Linked DNA regions of Homo sapiens. The protein of the gene in region 2 purifies or fractionates together with the protein of the main gene of each other region. This does not show direct contact. Each region holds a gene or a part of one and is shown on either strand. Other genes may lie near its edges.

Evidence for each region. Proteins that work in one complex are often made in the same cells at the same time.
Region 1: the proteins of TP53INP1 (region 2) and ASPM purify together in Homo sapiens (affinity purification with mass spectrometry; 2 studies listed by BioGRID and IntAct, with this or other methods). This does not show direct contact.
Region 3: the proteins of TP53INP1 (region 2) and TBC1D4 purify together in Homo sapiens (affinity purification with mass spectrometry; 2 studies listed by BioGRID and IntAct, with this or other methods). This does not show direct contact.

The regions. Positions count from the first base shown.
Region 1 is NC_000001.11:197,083,627-197,087,669, forward strand, and holds the end of ASPM (abnormal spindle-like microcephaly-associated protein), read right to left. Parts: intron 3,347-4,043; coding exon 3,177-3,346; intron 801-3,176; coding exon 698-800; 3' UTR 501-697; downstream 1-500. UniProt on the Homo sapiens protein: Involved in mitotic spindle regulation and coordination of mitotic processes.
Region 2 is NC_000008.11:94,946,335-94,954,360, forward strand, and holds the start of TP53INP1 (tumor protein p53-inducible nuclear protein 1), read right to left. Parts: upstream 3,045-8,026; 5' UTR 2,820-3,044; intron 2,011-2,819; exon of another isoform or gene 1-2,010. UniProt on the Homo sapiens protein: Antiproliferative and proapoptotic protein involved in cell stress response which acts as a dual regulator of transcription and autophagy. Acts as a positive regulator of autophagy.
Region 3 is NC_000013.11:75,472,170-75,479,169, reverse strand, and holds part of TBC1D4 (TBC1 domain family member 4), read left to right. Parts: intron 1-7,000.

The DNA of each region.
Region 1 (4,043 bases), on a different chromosome or scaffold from region 2:
CCATAAGAATTAGACATCTGTGGCCCTGAAACCACAGATACTAGTAATAGTGACTCAAAGAGTAGAAAAAAAATCACATTTCAATACTGAATCATTTTCAGGTCTGTGGTGTATAACTACACAACAAGATTCTATTATAAGCAATAGCATGTTCCTTCCACTTCAAATTATAACCCCCATCAGTTCAATGGTAAGAATTTTTAGTAAATACAGTGGTGGGTGTATTCTTTTTGTGAGCCTAGAAGGGCTCACTTGCTTATCTGGATGCTTTAGCCAGTCAAGGATATAGATAAGGATGCCATTGATATGAATTTGTGAGATTATTTTATCCTAGTCTCACTTCTTAGTGAGTAGACAGAACTTCAATTTCTAACATTTGTTTTATGAAAATTCCTCAACTTACCTATAAAAAAGGTGTAATCAGCTATTATTTCCTTTTAGTAATAAGATTACATTGAAACTACTATAATACTTTAAGATAATAGACAGGAATAATATAATCATCTTATGACATATTAGTTTATTACATGCATAAAACTATAAATGATAAAAATGAAGAATGTAATGAACAGTTTATGTTTTTTTAAAACAAAGTCAGATTTTAAAAGTTGTACACGGAGAGCAAAAATCACTTTACGTACTCATGATTGGCTTTAATATTTCTTTACACTATACATACTGAAAATGTTTACATTTACTAATAAGGAATGCCAAGCGTATCCATCACCATTTGAATAGCTTGCAGGGGATTTGTGATTTCTTCCATGTTATCTCTTCTCAAAACCCAATCTGGCTTAAGTCTGTTAAAAAAAAAAAAAAAGTCTGGCATTAATAAAGTTCTTCTCTTTAGAGTTACCTTCACCTTTTTTCTCTTAACTAAATTGTAGCTACTCCTGAACACATCATTTCCCTTACAAACTGCTCAAAGAGGTGGGAGAACTTCATATTATTGCCCATCACTAGTTCCAGACTATTTCTCTCCATCCTTTCTAAAAAATAATGCTGGCTTCTTTGAAGCTTATGCTATTTAGCTTGACCACTGCCTTTTGGTCATCAGCCAAACTCTCAGTGTCTTATTCCTTGTAAACCTGGTTCTTGTTCTCCTCTTACCTACTGTCACCGTTCTCAGCAACAGCAACATCTATGTGGCCAAAAAGCCAACAACCTAGTCCGTTTTTGCCCCACTTTCCTTCAATTCTACCTCAACCAATCCTTTTTAATATGATCACATACTAGACTTTGTCATCATCAGAAAGTGTGCGACCACTGAAATCTTGAGACTTCCATTCTCCATCCACCATTTCTGATTCATCCATGTCATATGCTCTAACACAGTCATTGAACCAGTTCTTCTACCCCACTGAGATCTCCACTTCATTTGGCCTCAACACATACCCAACATCCACCAGAATGCTGTCCTTACTTTCCTGTGTATCTAGCTCAGGTGCATCAGTATTATCAAAACCTTTGCAAATGCCATTAACTGTTGTCTCTCTCTCCTACCAAACTAGTCTGAAGAATTCTACTTGGATTTCAAATTGAGTCAAAATATCTGCCTTCTCCATTCCTATACAGCTGCATATTACTAAAAATGTTTACACAACCAAGCTGATTTTATTTTTTGCCAATAATTACAAATCTAAAATGAGCATTTGAAATTGCCAGCATGCTCCCTTTCTCTCCAAGATGACTATCTTGGTCCTTTCCTCTTTTCAAACTTCCCCTCCATACCCTCTGAGCTGCTTCTGAGTTGTTGAGTTTATAATCTCAAACTTATTGAGAAAATAGTATCAAACCGAGGGAGTTCATGCATCTTCTCACATAATTCCCTACTATATGCATTTCCATCATCTTATTTTGTCCTGCTAAAAATCCAAAGATATATCAATTGGTGAGTGAACAAAGTGTGGTACGACCATACAATGGAATAGTACTAAGTGATAGAAAGGAATGAAATTCAAATCCATGCATAAACATGAACGAATTTCAAAAGCATTATGCTAAGGAAAAGAATCCAGTCACAAAAAGCTATCTACTATATGATTCCATATATGTGACAGTATAGAAATGGCAAAACTAAAGGTACAAAAATCAGATCAGTAGTTCCCAAAATCCAGGGAATAAAGAAAGAGAACTGACAACAAAGGGGCATAAGGAAACTTTGTGTTACAGAAATATTTTGTATCTCAGTGGTGGTAGTTTCCTAACTGTATACATTTGTCAAAACGAATTGAATTGCATACATTTAAAGGATGCATTTATACTGTCAGTAAATTTTACCTCAAAAGCCTGACCTACATCAAAATTTTAAGAGAATCCATTCATATGTTAGTATGAGCTTTTAAAACATAATGAATATTAAATTCTACCAAGTCCTTAAAAAACATGTAGAAATGGTCCCATTAATATATTTCAAGCAAATGAACTTTACATTATGCTGTGAAATATGCATGCATAAAACCAATTTATAACTACATTATACAGTTTATAATTATGAGTATAATTATAAAGCTAATGGCTGTGTAACCACTCAGGTCAAGAAATAGTGTGTTGTCAATAATGTAGGATTTGTACCTAGTATAGAGAATTGCTAAGTCTCAAGAAGGAAAGAAGGAAGGAAGGGAGGGAGAGAGGGAGAAGGGGGAAGAAAAAAAGGAGGAGGGAGAAAGAAGGAAGGGAGTAAAAACACTAATTAAATGCCATGACGGTTCACCAAAATAAATTAAATCTTTTTGCCAATAAAATCAGAAAATGTCAATCTAAATTTCCAGAAGGAGAAATTTCAAGAATCAGGGTGATTATGGGAGGACTGGAGGTTGATATTTTGGCTAAGAAGGACTTTTGGCACTTCTTAAACAGTGTAGTTTGTCTTTCATGCAAAATAAAATAAATAAAATAAAATGACAAAACTTATAACAAGCTTCTTAGCCTTAGCTCTTAACTATTTAATATAAGAAGTTTGTTGAATAACTATTAAATGTCCAAAGCTACAGTATAATGTTATTTCTTTATTTACCAAGACTGCTTCTTTTAAATTTACCAAACATTCCATTCTTATTCATATGTTGTTTCTCCACTGAAAAGCACATCTTGTTTATGGTAAGTGCTCAATAAATATTTGTTAAATGAATGAATGAACAGTGACACAAATTTATGGACTATATTTAATTGCTTACCTTGAAACTATTCTGGTCCTTACAGGTGTTTCTGGGATAAAAGGAATGCTTATAGAAGAATTCTTCTTTTGCTTGTAAAGTATTCTTTCAGTATTCATTTTATGTTTATGAGCTGTAAGTTTGTAGAGACTGTAAATACGGTCAACAACTTTGGACCTACTTCGTACATCCTACAAAATAAAATGCACAGTTACTAAAAAGTAATAAGAATTAAAATTTTATCTCTTTTAGACTAGCAAAATCAAATATAATAAAAACTATGCAGTAAACCTTTTTTTTTTCTTTTTTGAGATGGTCTCTCTTGCTCTGTCGCCCAGGCTGAAGTGCAGTGGTGCGATCTTAGCTCAATGCAATCTCTGCCTCCCGGGTTCACGCCATTCTCCTGCCTCAGTCTCCCAAGTAGCTGGGATTACAGGCACCCGCCACCACACCCGGCTAATTTTTTTTGTATTTTTAGTAGAGATGGAGTTTCACCGTGTGAGCCAGGATGGTCTCAATCTCCTGACCTCGTGATCTGCCTACCTCAGCCTCCCAAAGTGCTGGGATTACAGGCGTGAGCCACCGTGCCCAGCCTGCAGTAAACTTTTAAGCTTTGAATAATCAAAGAAACCTCACCAAGTTTGGCAGGTAGATTGATTTAAATTACGAGCTAATTTGCAAGGCAATTATAAGGAAGATAAATATTCAAAAGTTGCATACTTAACTCCACACTGAATATAAGAAGGAATTATTATAGTCAACATAGCAATTATAGTCAACACACCTATCATATCCAGTTACCAAGTCTTGAAAAGTTTACCTCTGCAGTTTCCAAAGTCTTCTACTTACCTCTCAGCGACACAATCCTAAGACAAGCACAATCTCTTG
Region 2 (8,026 bases):
ATCTTGTTAGCATAATTTATTTTGTCACTTTTAAGACAGCCCACCAAGAGGCAGTATATTGTGGTACTTAAAGACTGGCTCTGAGGCTGGGCGCAGTGGCTCATGTCTATAATCCCAGTGCTTTGGGATGCCAAGGCAGGAGGATCACTTTAAGCCAGGAGTTCAAGACCAGCCTGGGCAACAAAGCAAGACCCCATCTCTACAAAAAATAAATTAGCTGGGTGTGGTGGTATGTGCATGTAGTCCCAGCTACCAGGGAGGCTGAGGTAGGAGGATCGCTTGAGCCCATGAGTTTGAAGCTGCAGTGAGTTGTGATCCCACCACTACACTCCAGCCTGGTCAACAGAGTAAGACCCTGTCTCAAAAAAAAAAAAAAAAAAAAAAAAGACAGGCCCTGGAGTTTGAAATCTTGGCTCTGCTACTTGCAACCTATGTGAATTCAGGATATTTACTAACATCTTGGTGTCTCTGTTTTCTCATCCTTAACATGGGAATGATAGTTATAATACCTACTTCACAGTGCCAGTGTAAGGATTAAGTGTATACTACTTAGAATAGCAGACCTCGGTTCATTCAAAGCCAGTTGTGAGACTGTCAACAAGTCATTTAGCATCGCTGCATTTGAGTTTCTTTATCCATAAAATGTCTACTTAATAATTAGAGCTACAATTTACAGAATGCTTATTGTATGTAACGGGGCCTTGAAGTACTTATTTGTCCCATTTTACTGATGAGGAAACCGAGGCTGAGGAATTAACTAACTTGTTCAAAAGTGACAGAGTTGGTTGGGGTGGAGTCAGCATTAGGGCAAAAATCCATCTGATTCCAATTCCTTGTTTTCCCTATACATGCTCTTTTAGGCTCCCAGTCTCAACTATGGGTCTACGAACTTCAGAAAACAGCCCTTTTCAGTTAGTTTCAGCTGCCAGTAGGCGGCTCCAAAAAATATTAAAAAAAAAAAAAAAACCCGCAAGTTTGATGATCTAACTTCTAAATCTGTGTACAGTTGTGGCTCCTTCACAGTTTCAGGAAATCAGGTGGCTAAACGTACCGTCATTGAAAAGCAGCTTCAGAATTATCCTTCTTTTTATCCCACCCTCTTCCACTACTTTAAAAACGTGCAGATTCTAGTAATTTAAAATGGGTTTTGAACTGGAGAAAAACCAAGCCAAGAAAGTTATCTCTGCTTGTTCCACTTATATGAAGACTAGATTCAAGTAATTTAAAATGGATTTTGAACTGCAGAAAAAACCAAGCCAAAAAAGTTGTCTTTGCTTGTTCCACTTATGTGAAGACTGTTCAACTAGTGTGCAAGGGAGGTTATTCCCCCAGGGATCCACCCCTGTCTGCCCCTAAGGCTGAAAGACAGTGGACAAAGACAAGAGTAAGTGGTAATTCATAGCCTGATAATCTTGAATTTTGAAAGCAGACATCAGAGGAAGCAATGGCAGGAAAGAACAAAAGATAGGATGAGAAAACAAGACCTTGGTCACAGAAATTAGTAAGGTCCTGGTTCCAGGCAGGGGCCTTTTAAAATTATGCTGCCAGTTCAGAATTACACTGATTGCGACTTAAAAGCTTCCCAGTGCTTTTCACATCTGCAAATGAAAATGTATTTCAATTACCAGGCTGGTGATTTCAGTATCGTGGGGGAACTCATTATGACTTCTGTTCAGTGACCCCAAGGGTCACATTGTTCCCCCTTTTCCCAAAACTATTGTGCATTGAGAAAAGGCTTTTTTAGCAATAGATGCCCAAGTCCTTGGGAGTCACAGTTGTAAAGAGGCTCTTCCTTAATCCACTCTGTATTGGAATTAACCTACTGAGCAGATATAATCAGAAAATACAAGCAAAACAGACTCTCCAGGTAAAATTCAGCTGCCACTTTGAAATACAAACACCATTTCCTTTTATTAATTGGCTGTGTGGCCTTGAGCAACTTAATCTCTCTGTGCCTCGGGTTTCCTATGTGTAAGATAGCCGGGCCTATTTCATATAAGGTTATTATGAGAATCAACTGGGGCGATAAAGCAAAGCCCCCAGCATAGTATATGGCACATACTCAGCGCTCAGTAAGCGTGAGCGATCCAAAGGATCTAAATGTTAAGGGCCAAGGAGAGCGCTCTTTCCACAGGTGCAAAGTCAGGTAGCGAAGACTGAGTTCAAGCCAGGTCAAGCAAGGGACAGGCCGCGGACAGGCGGGGGCCGGTGGCCGGGTCACGGAGCAGGTTCCCCATAGCCGCAGGGCCTCCGGAACTCGGAGGGCAGGCGCAGGGGACGGGATCGCAGGGCGGGGACAGAGCGCCGGGCCACAAGCCCAAGCGCCGCTGTCTTCGGAGATGCGTCCCGGGGGTGGCCGCGGGAGCCCCGACGCCGAGTCCCGAAGGGGCGGCCCCATCCAACGGCCGAGAGCAGGCGGAGGAGGAGGAGTGGAGGGGAGTGAGGAGGGGTGAGAGGAGGAGGTCCCGCCGCGGCCAAGAAAACAAGCCACGCTCGGGGGAGGAGGCAGAGACCAAACTCCCAACCGCCGCCCAGCGCCGGGGCCAGGCCGGGCCCTTGTCCGCGCCGCCGCCGCCTCTGTCAGCCTCTGTCCGCGCCCTGGGCCCCGGGGGCCGCCGAGGACCGACCCACTGGGTGGGCGGCCGGGCCCGGCGGCGGCGAGGGGAGGCAGCGAGGGGGCTCGGTGAACGCGCAACCGGCGCCCCGAAGGCAGGGCGCGCGGCCGGCCCCGCCGGGCTCAGGAGCGGGCAGCGCTGCGGCCCCAACCGGCAGCGAGGCGGCCCTGGACGGACGCCCGCCCGCCCCCCCCCGGCACTTACGTGGGCCCGGGCCGTGCGGGGCTGCGCGGGGAAGGGAGCGGCCGCCGGCTCGGCGGGGAAGGACGCGGGCGGGGCGGGACTGCTGAGGTAGCTGCGGTGGGGCCGGGCTGCGCTGCACCTCGTTCAGGTACCCAGACGGCAGGCGCGGGGCCGGCTCCAGCCCTCGGGTCGCTGCGCCCAGGCCGGCCAGTCCAAGTCCTTTTGTTGTTGTGCAGCGCTCGCAACAGCTGATCGGCCGCTCCGCTCGCCGTCGGGCCCCGCTGCCCCGCCCCGGGCCGCGCCAGGCCGGGCCCCACCAATCGGCGGTGCGGGGGCCCCGGGGCCGCCCTGCGAGAGGTTGTCACCAACGCACGTGACCTGGCGCCCGGCCGGCGGCGCGCTCAGCTCCGAAACAAGCCCGGGCAACAAAAACCGGGAGCTGAGCGTGAAGGCCTGGGCGAGCGGAAGGGTGGGAGAGAGGGGCTAGGCCGGGGAGGGAAGCGCTGGGGCCGGGGCCGGCTTTCCAGGAGCCGGCGGGAGCGGGGTGCGTAAGAGGCGGGCGAGGAAGAACCGGCGGGCAACGGGAAGGGCAGAGGTGGATCTCTCCCTCAGCGACCCCTCTCGCCGAGTGAAGGGTCGAGGGTTTGGGGCACAAAGGGCGCAGAACGTTTTTTCCTGTGAGAGGAACATTAAGACTCCTGGGAGGGCTGGGGCTAACGCCTCCGAGAGCCCCACCTGGTCAGCCTAGGGTTAGACGTGTAGCCAGGGTGCTGGGAGGGGGCCGCTGCTGGGCCCCAGATAGAGGGGTAGAGGCCGCTCAATCACGGAGCCAGGCCCCACCTGCTGTAGAAACCGCCACCGAGAGCCGGCCGGGCTTGCTGCACGCTCTGGATTCCGCCTGCCTATAGGCGAGGCACAAGGGACTGCGAGACCAGGCCTGAAGGCAGAGAGGTCAGCAGGCTCGGGGGCCTCTGCTCCAGCGGACAACAAGCGCACCGGGCGGGAACGGCCGCCTCCCCAGGCGCTGCAGCCTAGCTCTCATGTGACCCACGGAACTTAGCCCCTCTGTTCTGTTTGCATACCTGCAAATTGTGGGCATTCACGCCGGGACTGCCAACTCACCAGGTTATTTATAGTGACAAGAGAGTGAGACAGTGGGCTTGAAAGTGTTTTCCAGACCAAGGCTCTGTCCCACATATAGGTGGATTAACTGTCTGGCAAAGGCAGGTGAGTAACGTTGATGCCTATCAGCTCTCATGTGGATACTGTTTGGACTGGGATGTAGTTCTTTGACCTGGGGTGAGCTGTATAGCAACCCTGGAGGGATGCCTATCACACATTACAGTATCTGAAAGACACTCACATTCTGACCCTCACAATGTAGTCAGTCCATTTCCAACAATGCTGGTTTTAAAGGATGTAAATTGCAGTGCAGGGAGTTGTCAGACACCAAGGAGTAATGATCAAAATATGATGGTCATTGGACCTTATCTTGGGAGAAAGAGCTAAAACTGTGTTCTAGATAGTCTCACAGACTTGAACATGCTTTGGATTTTAGGTTTTTGCAAATCAGGCTTGTTCTAATATTTTCTCCCACATGCTATGGTAGGAGCCCCATGATCTCTTGTTTCTCCCTAGGAATCCATTGAAGAGGCCATCTCCACATTCAGAACCAAGGTATGATGACAATTACAAGGGGCTAATTTTTAAAAAGAAAAAGGCCTACCTTTTTCCAGTTTGATAAGGTTTATCATGGTTAAAGCAACATGTGAAATCATCATCTTGTTATGATAGAAAAATTCAATATGAAGTAGATCATTTTTCCAAAGATGACCACAACAGTATCTCCATCATGAAGTGGGTGTATTTTTCTTCCCTTTGAATCTGGGCTGACCCTGTGATTGCTCTGACCAATAGAATGTGGCAGAAAGAATGTTCTAGGACTTCCAAGCCTCGTCATTAAGCAAAAGCATTAAGCAAACCCCACAGCTTCTGCTTTGTACTCTGGAAAATGCCAGCCACCCATGAGGAGAGACCACCCTGCTAGCCACAGGGAGAGGCTATGTGAAAAGAAAGAGATGCCTGGCCAGCTCTAGCTCTTCAGCTCATCCCAGCTGAGCTACCAGACACATGAGTGGAAAAGCCCTTAGGAAGTTCCAGCTCCAGCAGACACCATACTGAACAGAGGAGAGATAAGCCATCCCCACGGAGCACTGCCAAAATGACGGCATTGTGAACAAATAAATGATCATTGTTTTAAGGCACTAAATGTTGGGGTAGTTTTTAAAGCAGCGATAACCAAAACACAAAGCTAACAGAAATGCCCATCACAGATCAGTGACTCTAAACTCTACCAAATAGTGTTTGTGATGAAAACATCTTGTCTCAGGAGTCACTTGCTTTCTGTTTACTCTCTTGCTGATTTATAATCTTCCCACCTGGTGCTTGTTTATTCCCAGTGGTGCACCAAGGAGGGCGTGCCTCAGGGCAGCATAGGTGAAGTCTGTCCCTAGGAGGGAGGAGTACTTTACCACGACATTGTTTGGAACTGTTGGAGCATAATAATAAAAAGCAAACTGACTTTTAGTCAATTTTATTTTAAAATTCTTTGCAGACACACAAATTTACTGTGTACTGCCTGTATCTGGGGTGGATCACTCCCACTGCCTCCCTTCCTGGTATGCCACTGGTTTACATAAATGCATGCAGTGAAACTCAGGAGTAATGTCATCTCCATAGCGTAGAGCTGTCTGAACACAACCAAACTGTCAAATTACACAAATGCAAGCAAGCTTTTCATCTGTTCACTGACAAAGACCCAGCCAGGTTCCCTGCCTGGGCAGATCCAGTGAATCCAACCATCCTTTAATTCACAGAATAATTCTTAGCGTGTTGCTATAGTACCCACTTCCAGGCTGACCCCCTGCTGTGGGGGTGACCCTTTCCCCATCTGTCAGAGTTCTCCTGTCTGTTTTCCATGGAGCTCAATACGCTCCCTTATCTACCCTAACAAAAGGGATTCAACCTCAAGTTTTGTTTGGAAGACTCACAGTGCAGGACCACATTCACACCAACAAACAGATACAATGCAACTAATGCCTCTGCCTCCTGCTTATGAAAGCAGGCTGTGGCCATAACCCTGCCAGTTGCATCGAGGCTGCTAAAGAATGTTGTTTCCTACCAACCCATAGGATGGCTACTTGGGGCAGCCTCAGAACACAAAGCAACAAGTTGTTCTGTCTGTACTGAGGAGAATGGCAAAGTGAAGTCCACTTAGGTCGTTTTCTATCTACCCATCAACAGTTAGGATCTGCTGGGCTTCTACCATGGACACAGCATGTTGCCAAGTGTCTGGGAAAGACAAGAATTTTTTTAAATTGCATTTTAGATAAACAATCACTTAGCATTCCAGTGACATCTATTGTCTTAAGGGAAGAAAGGATCTGACTGGGTCTCCAGAAAGCCTGGAACAAAGAAGCAAGAGATTCTGTGATTTCTGCTTTCTGAAATAAAAACAGAAAACAGGCGTTTAACTGGGCTGCCAGTTACCATCTCAGAAAGGAGTCAAGAATTATTCCAGGGCCATAAGTGTAATAGCTTTTCAAGACCCTGCAACCTTTGTGACTTTTGTATGTTTGTCTTTTTGTTTAACCCTATTTCCACGTGGTGATTAGAAATAAAATCCTTAAAATAAAAAGGGTCTGTGTGCTGGCTGAGGCAGCAGAAAGGAAAAAGGAGGCGGGCCCCCTTCATTCAGTAACCAGTGCTAGGGGGGAGTCCCCAAGAGGTGGGATAGCCTGCGCTGGATTGTAACTAATGATCGCTTCAGGCCTAGAGTATTTTCTCTAGTTTCTGGAAAGTACTTTCAAGGCTTCTTAGTTTCTGGCTGAATGTACAGGTAACCCAATTATTTATGTTAAAACTTAGAGCAGAGGCTGGGCACGGTGGCTTACGCCTGTAATCCCAGCACTTTGGGAGGCCGAGGCAGGTGGATCACCTGAGGTCGGGAGTTCAAGACCAGCCTGACCAACATGGAGAAACCCCGTCTCTACTAAAAATACAAAATTAGCTGGTCATGGTGGTGCATTCCTGTAATCCCAGCTACTCGGGAAGCTGAGGCAGGAGAATCGCTTGAACCGGGGAGGCGGAGGTTGCATGAGCCGAGATCGCACCATTGCACTCCAGCCTGGGCAACAAGACGGAAACTCCATCTCAAGAAAAAAAAAAACAAAAAAAAAACCTTTGAGCAGAAAGCAAGGTCATCCCTTACTGGATATGGTCTAGAGACATGATACAGAATGGCCCTTCATACACCACCCTAGCTCCAAGGAGCCATGAAGCTTGAAGAGGCGCACTGTGTGGGGCAGATGTGACTCGTTCTTGGGGCGGTTGTCAGAGATTAGTTGAAGTGTGTGAGCAAAGGGCTTTTGTAACTCCCGCTGCCAAAGCGACTTCTTCACTCACACTGATACTTCTGGGCACTGCCCAACAGTCCGCATATGCCAGAGGCAACCTGAGGTGGGTCTGTAATCATGAATTGCTTTGTTAGGGTGACAGCATGAGTGCAAGTGCCTTTCTGCTCTTCTCAAAAGGATGCAGATGATATGGTTACTACTTACATAAGCCACACACTGCCTAAATAATCTACCTATTTAAGGAAAACTCGTTTATTGGATTCTTTTTTTTTTCTTTTTGCATGAATGAACTACCTTAAATATCCATTTCATTTTGCAAGATGAATTTATGCTTTTAAATGTCCATGTTTCTCATGGCTTTGGCAAAGCCAGGCCTAAACGTTTTGATCATCCAAGGCAAGGTTTTTTATTTCTATAGTATCCTTTCGGGGCCTCTTTTCCTGCTTTATTCCTCTTTGATAGGAGTAGGCATTTATTTCTCTTAAATATCCATTACATTTTGCAAGATGAATTTTTTTGTTTTGTTTTTTGTTTGAGATGGAATCTCGCTTCGTCGCCAGGCTGGAGTGCAGTGGCGTGATCTCCACTCATTACAACCTCCGCCCCCCGGGTTCAAGAGATTCTCCTGCCTCAGCCTCCCAAGTAGCTGGGACTACAGGCGTGTGCCACCAAGCCCAGCTAATTTTCGTGTTTTTAGTAGAGACAGGGTTTCACCATGTTGGCCAGGATGGTCTTGATCTCTTGACCTCATGATCCGCCCGCCTCAGCCTCCCAAAGTGCTGGGATTACAGGCATGAACCACCACACCTGACC
Region 3 (7,000 bases), on a different chromosome or scaffold from region 2:
AAACTCAAATAACAAAGAAGAGGGTTGAGTGAGGACCATGGAGGACTGGATAGTGGGTGGCCTTTCTCAAGGTGCTACTTAGCTCCACTTGGAAATTGCATGAATAGGATGCAAGTCTAGCGTTGCTAGAGCTGCTGATTTCCCAAGAGAGAGTGGAAATCTGAATTTTTATATATGACCCCGCATTTTAAAGTACTGGCAAATATTGTAAACATTTAAGAATCCTATCTGGGCCAAACAATACACATCTGAGAGATGGCTTTAGAGATCCATGAGCGGCCACTTTTGATCTTTGGCATAAATATTTGTTGAGTGGACAAGCGCAGTCATTGACACTATGTGCTGTTTGCTGTATTTCCTTTAGAGCATCCAGGTTCATTTGATATGGCTGTCATAGTAGGGGAAGCTGGGACCATCCTTTTTGAAGAATTTAGCAGAAAAATTCCCAGAAGTGTTGATTCTGCAGCTAGACATGTTAAAGGGGTCAGTTCAACATATTATCATCCAGCAGTATGCTTCATGCAGAGTTGGCTGTGGATAGTTCTAGGGACCCTTGAAATCAGAAGGAAGACCTGCTGTTTGCTTTGTTCTGAGTTCTATATTTGAAGTGGAGAATTATTTATTTGGACTTAAGATCATTGTTAAGAGAGTCTCCTAAGTGTTTCCCTCAGTCCTCGACAGAGTCTATAAAGTCTACAAACGTAGCCTAGAGCAGTAGACCTGCAAACATCCCCTAACATACTTGTCTGTGGTTTGTCTGTCATGCCTATTCCTTTAATGCAATGGCCCTATCTGTTGGATGACCGTATACTTTATTGTTTGATATGGGACAATTTTATTGTCAAAAGGGGCACCACTAATAATTATACAAGCACTGTGAGTAATAAACCTGGACTGTTGAGGACAAACCGAGATATATGGTCACCATGGCAAAGTTTGTGTTCATGCAGAGCCACCGAGTTGGAGGATTGTGGTTACTAATATAAAATGATAATGTTTTCAAGAGTATCTACTCACATATTGGAGTTGGATCTACATTTGACCTTAGAGCTGGGAGTGCTGTACTAATCGCTTGGGGGTCTGTTGTGGGGAGTTGCCACAGTGATGTGTTCCCTCTTGGCTCCACACCTCCCTTTGGGTCAGAGTCAATTTAAGGATGTGTGTCAGGAGAAGCATTCAACCAGAATGGCTCAATGCACCACTGTTTCTCCAAGGTGCAAAGAGAAATGGAGATGGGGGTGAAATGTATGCCAATGCAGATCTGTCTCTAGTCAAGCCTATGTAGTCTTATACAGGAGGAATGTCAGGCTTAGCACATTTCAGCTAAACTTGAATATTTGAACTGGGAAAAGGGCTTAATCCCATTGGCATGAAGTGAATTACAGACTTAAACTGATTGGGGAAACAAGAATATCTGATTCTCTCCCAAAGGTCTAGGATAGGTCACTAATACTCTGTAAATATTTATCCACTTGCAAAAAGAGTCTGTATGGCATTACCCAAATTTTTCTGTTAAAAAGTTATTTTATGTTATACATACATTACTACAATAAAAAATAAAGCAGGAGTTGTTATTGAAAATATGAGACTTTGTTATGTTAATTTTTAATTAACATTTGCCTGTGAGTTTTGAAGCATCATTATGTTTTATAATTATAGGATGAACAATCATTTAAAAGGTAAAAACATGATTGTTATAATGTTTATTGGTTGTTTTTGTGTATTATTTACTGAAGCTTGCAAGAATGATTTTAAAGAGACTTTACAAATTGTGTTCTTAAGATTAAAAAAAGGAATTTAATGCCAGTGTTTTCCCAACTCTCAGTTCTCTTAAAAACGTGTATTACTATCTGAGCTTTATTCACGTAACCAGTTTTTTTGTCAATATATTTTTAGAAGGTCATTTTTCAGTTCTTTTTCAAAGTTGATGGTTAGTAGCTTTGAGAATATACTAGTAAGAATACCAGAGAAATTGAAACCTGGAAGATTTCACCTCTCTGTGCTTTCTAAGAAGTTTGTTCTGTGGACAGATAGATCTATCTCTTTTTTTGTAATCATTTTTTATTCTCTCTCCTCCTTGCAGTCTGAAGTGGAGGTTAATTTGCCTTGGCTCTGTGGTAGAATCTTGACTGCAATATCTGGCGGAAAGGCACAAACATAGCCCAGAGACTCCCAGCCACAATGGAGCACATTATGATAGGAGCCCTAAGCTGAAAATTGAAGGTGTTCAGTGTCAGGGCTTGATTATCAGAAACCAGAGATTCTCAAACTTCAGTGTGTGTGTCAGAATTACCTAGAGGGCTTCTTAAAAGAGACCACTGGACCCTACCCTCAATTTCTGATTTAACAAGTTCTCTGGTGATGCTCAAACTACTGGCCGGGTGACCACAGTTTTAGAAACCCTGTGCTAAGTTATTTGGTTCATTTGGTTGGCTGTATGACCATTTCTGTTCCCCTGGATATTTTTGTAGTCTTTCTCAGACTTGAAAGTTCAAGTGGAATGTGAGGAGAAATAATATTTGACTCTGGAATATTTTTAAGAAGCTCTTCATCTTCTAGCTTAATGATTTGCCTGTCCTTTCCCTGATATAGACATTATTCTGCCAGACATCATAAGACCATGCAAATGTTGAATGAAAACTTTGCCTTTCAGCCAAAAGTTTTAAGTTCTGCAGGTGGAATAAACAGTTCATTTTGAGGGGAATACAGATAACCTAAAAATCTGAAGTCCAAAGTGTTTTAACGTCAGAAACGTTTTGAGCATCAACATGACACTACAGGTGGAAAATTCTTCACCTGATTTCATGAGATCACAGTCAAAACACACAAAATTATTAAACATATTGTATAAAATTACCTTGAGGCTATGTGTATAAGGTGTATAGAAACACAAATGAAGTTTTTTTGTTGTTGTTGTTTATTTTTTTGAGGTGGAGTCTCGCACTGTCGCCCAGGCTGGAGTGCAGTGGCGCGATCTCGGCTCACTGCAACCTCCACCTCTCAGGTTCAAGTGATTCTCCTGCCTCAGCCACCCAAGTAGCTGGGATTATAGGAGTGCACCACCACGCCCAGCTAATTTTTGTATTTTTAGTAGAGACGGGGTTTCACCATATTGGCCAGGCTGGTCTCAAACTCCTGACCTCAAGTGATCTGCCCGCCTGGGCCTCCCAAAGTGCTGGGATTACAGGTATGAGCCTCTGCACCCAGCCAGAAACATAAATGAATTTTATACTTAGACTTGGGTCTCATCCTTAAGATATCTCATTATGTATATGCAAATATTCCAAAATCTGAAAAAAAAATTCAAAATCTGAAACACTTCTGTTCCCAAGTATGTTGGATAAGTGATACGCAACCCATATATCCTAATTTCAGATTATGATAGTTTTTGAAAAAATTAAAGCTTGATTTACAGCCTGAGAAATAACACCATTCAGTAAGGCAGAGACTGTTCACATGCCCTTTTCTCATTTTGGAATGAGTAATTGCTTGGTGAGGAAACTGATGATTTCCATGAATTTTCTAGATTATCTGGTATATTATTTACCTCATAAGTAAAAGAATCAAGTCAGAAAAATAGCAGCATGCTTAGTATACTGGCTATTAAGAAAATCATGCAAAAAGAAGTAGAGTTGGGCAATTTAGTGAATAAGATAATGGCCAGCCTAAATAATTACTGCAAACAATTTTATTTACTTAAAAAAACCTCAAGGCTTCTGTTTGTTTAAAAATATCTGGCTGGTAGTTTCAGAGTCCCCTTTCCTTTAGACTACATTGGCATGTCTGAACCAAGCCAACATGCAGTTACTTGGATGTAGCCCCTTGGAAAGTGAAGAACAGCTCAATTATGATTTAATGTAATAGTATATTCAGACTTATTTGACCAAGTAAAGGATTTTTCTTGACATATGGTCTGCATAAAATATGTATACAAATTGAATACCTCACTGGGATGTGCCAACTCTAAGGATGTCATTGGCTTGTTACTTTAAGGTTGGAATATGGTATGTAATATGGTATGTTGACATTGCACTGTCAAGTTTGTCTGAGTAGCTCCTTAATGCATTTCCTTAAAAGTGAACGTTTATTGAGCTCTTCCTGGGTGATAGCACTACTCTCACTGCTTCTCTTAGGAGATCACCCTTTAGCTTCACAGTAACTGGGTGAAGTACGTACCAGTATTTCCTTCATTTTATAGATGAGAAAACTGAGATATAGAAAGGTTAAATTATGGGCCGGGCGTGGTGGCTCATGCCTGTAATCCCAGCACTTTGGGAGGCTGAGGCAGGCGGGTCACCTGAGGTCAGGAGTTCGAGACCAGACTGGCCAACATGGTGAAACCCCATCTCTACTAAAAATACAAAAATTAGCCAGGTATGGTGGCATACGCCTGTAATCACAGCTACTTGGGAGGCTGAGGCAGGAGAATCGCTTGAACCTGGGAGATGGAGGTTGCAGTGAGCCTGGATCGTACCACTGCACTTTAGCTTGGGCGACAAAGTGAGATTAAAAAAAAAAAAAAAGGTTAAATTATTTCTCCAAGGTCACAAGACCTTGGTAGAAGCATATTTCTATCCAGGCAGATTCTAAAGCTTGTTTTCTTTTCTTTTTGAGACGGAGTCTGACTCTGTCGCCCAGGCTGGAGTGCAGTGGCGCAATCTCGGCTCACTGCAAGCTCCGCCTTCCGGGTTCACGCCATTCTCCTGCCTCAGCCTCCCGAATAGCTGGGACTACAGGCACCCGCCACCACGCCTGGCTAATTTTTTGTATTTTTGGTAGAGACGGGGTTTCACCGTGTTAGCCAGGATGGTCTCGATTTCCTGACCTCGTGATCCGCCCGCATAGGCCTCCCAAAGTGCTGGGATTACAGGCGTGAGCCACTGTGCCCGGCCAGTTTTCTTACCTGCTACACTAGAATGCAGTTATTGAAAATTAGTTTTTAGTTGTTGGTCTTATCAGCTTTTATACTATCACTTTTTCCTACTCATATTAAAAATCTCCACAGGTAAATATGCTTATTAAGTTTGTAAAATAATAATTAGTGCTGAATGCACACTTGGGTATAGTTATGCCAGTATGTACTTTCCATTTTAAGGGGAAATAAAAAAAGTTTGTTTGATTTGTTGGGCTGGTAAGGCTGAACTCTGGTGTACCTTTGATTTAGTGTCTTTAAGTATGGCGGGGGAATAAACTATGAGTCTATAGTATTTATAACCATTATAATTTTAGGTTAGAATAAAAGATCATTAGGATCTACATTTAAAAACAAGTAAACCATGAATTTGAATTTATTTTATTGAATTATAAAGTATATGAATATCTTTTAATATGTCTTTGATATCTGTGATTATATGACAGGGACAAAATATAGGATTAAAACTTTGGTTGGTTTCATTTCAGATAATCTTGCCATAGGTTTGTGCAGTCTCAGCAGAAGGAAATCAGGGTTGTTATTACTGTTTTACTGATCTCTTCCAAGTTTCACTTCTTGCAAGATGTTGGGGTTGGAAAGAGGATCTCTAAGTAATGGAATCTTTCTGGCTAAAAATAGGAGCCTACATTGGCTGCTGCTTTAGCGTTTTTATTTTGTGGATACCCTTAACCAGTTGAATAGTCTTCACTTTTAACTTTTGTGAATTTTCACACAAATTTTAAAAATTCTCTAAGTTAGGACCATGGAAACTTTGTGCTATCAATATTACATAATTTGTGAATAGTTTACTATCAGTCTCAGATTCTAAGTCAAACACAGTGCTTCTGGTCGAACAAATCTAGAAATCTTCTGTATCTCACAATTGTATCTTCTTTTGTATCTTACAATTGTATCTTCATATATATTTTTAATAATGGGTTATGTAACTTGGACAAATACATTTATGGCTGGGACCTTTTAAAATTCAGTAAAAATTGGGAGGCCGAAGCAAGCAAATCATTTGAGACCAGGAGTTTGAGACCAGCCTGGCCAACACAGTGAAACCCCATCTCTTCTAAAAAAATAGCAAAAATTAGCCAGGTGTGGTGGTGCATGCCTGTAATCCCAGCTACCCAGGAGGAGGCTGAGGCATGAGAATTGCTTGAACCTGGGAAGTGGAGGTTGCAGTGAGCCGTGATTGTGCCACTGCACTCCAACCTGGGCGACAGCTTACTCTGTCTCCAAATAAATAAATAAATATCAATGAGTAAATTGTTTTTGGTCCTTACATGGCTCCCAGCTTTTTCAACTCATCTCTTGCCTTGGTTTCAGTCATTTAATTCCCATTGGCTGGGCAGTCTGAGAGCTTTTCCTGAGTTTACCTGAATTAAACTGATAGCCTTTCTCCTTGATTCTCCAGGTAATTATTGCTCCCAGATTTCCAGTAGCAAGTTCTTTAGGAGACTAGTTTGGATCCCTCATTATTCTGTGTTGGAACTCCCTGATTCTGCTGCTCCCTTTGAAGACCACCCAATGCTTGTTGCCTAACTCTTTACAGATTGTGCACTACTTGCCTGATTGGATTTCTTTCTAGTCATGGAAGCTGGCCTTCTTTTTCCTGAGAGAGTATCTAGTTATGGTCCTCGCCCCTTCCTGTTAGCTCCTTCTAAGGCTGTTAACAGATTTTATTTGCAGACAGATTTTATTTTGTACAGATTTTATTTTGGCTGTCGTATGGAATTTTGTAAAAGCCTGTTGGCATGAACATAGTGGTGGTGGTGGGCATGACCCTTTTAAATCCATCCACAATTCTTTTTTTTATTTTTATTTTTTTTCTCTGAGACGGAGTCTTGCTTTGTCACCCAGGCTGGAATGCAGTGGCGTGATCTCGGCTCACTGCAACCTCCGCCTCCCAGGTTCAAGCAGTTCTCCTGCCTCTGCCTCCTGAGTAGCTGGGACTACAGGCGCCTGCCAGCACACCCAGCTAATTTTTGTATTTTTAGTAGATACGGAGTTTCACCATGTTGGCCAGGCTGTTCTCTCTTGACCTCATGATCCGACCACTTCAGCCTCCCAAAATGCTGGGAT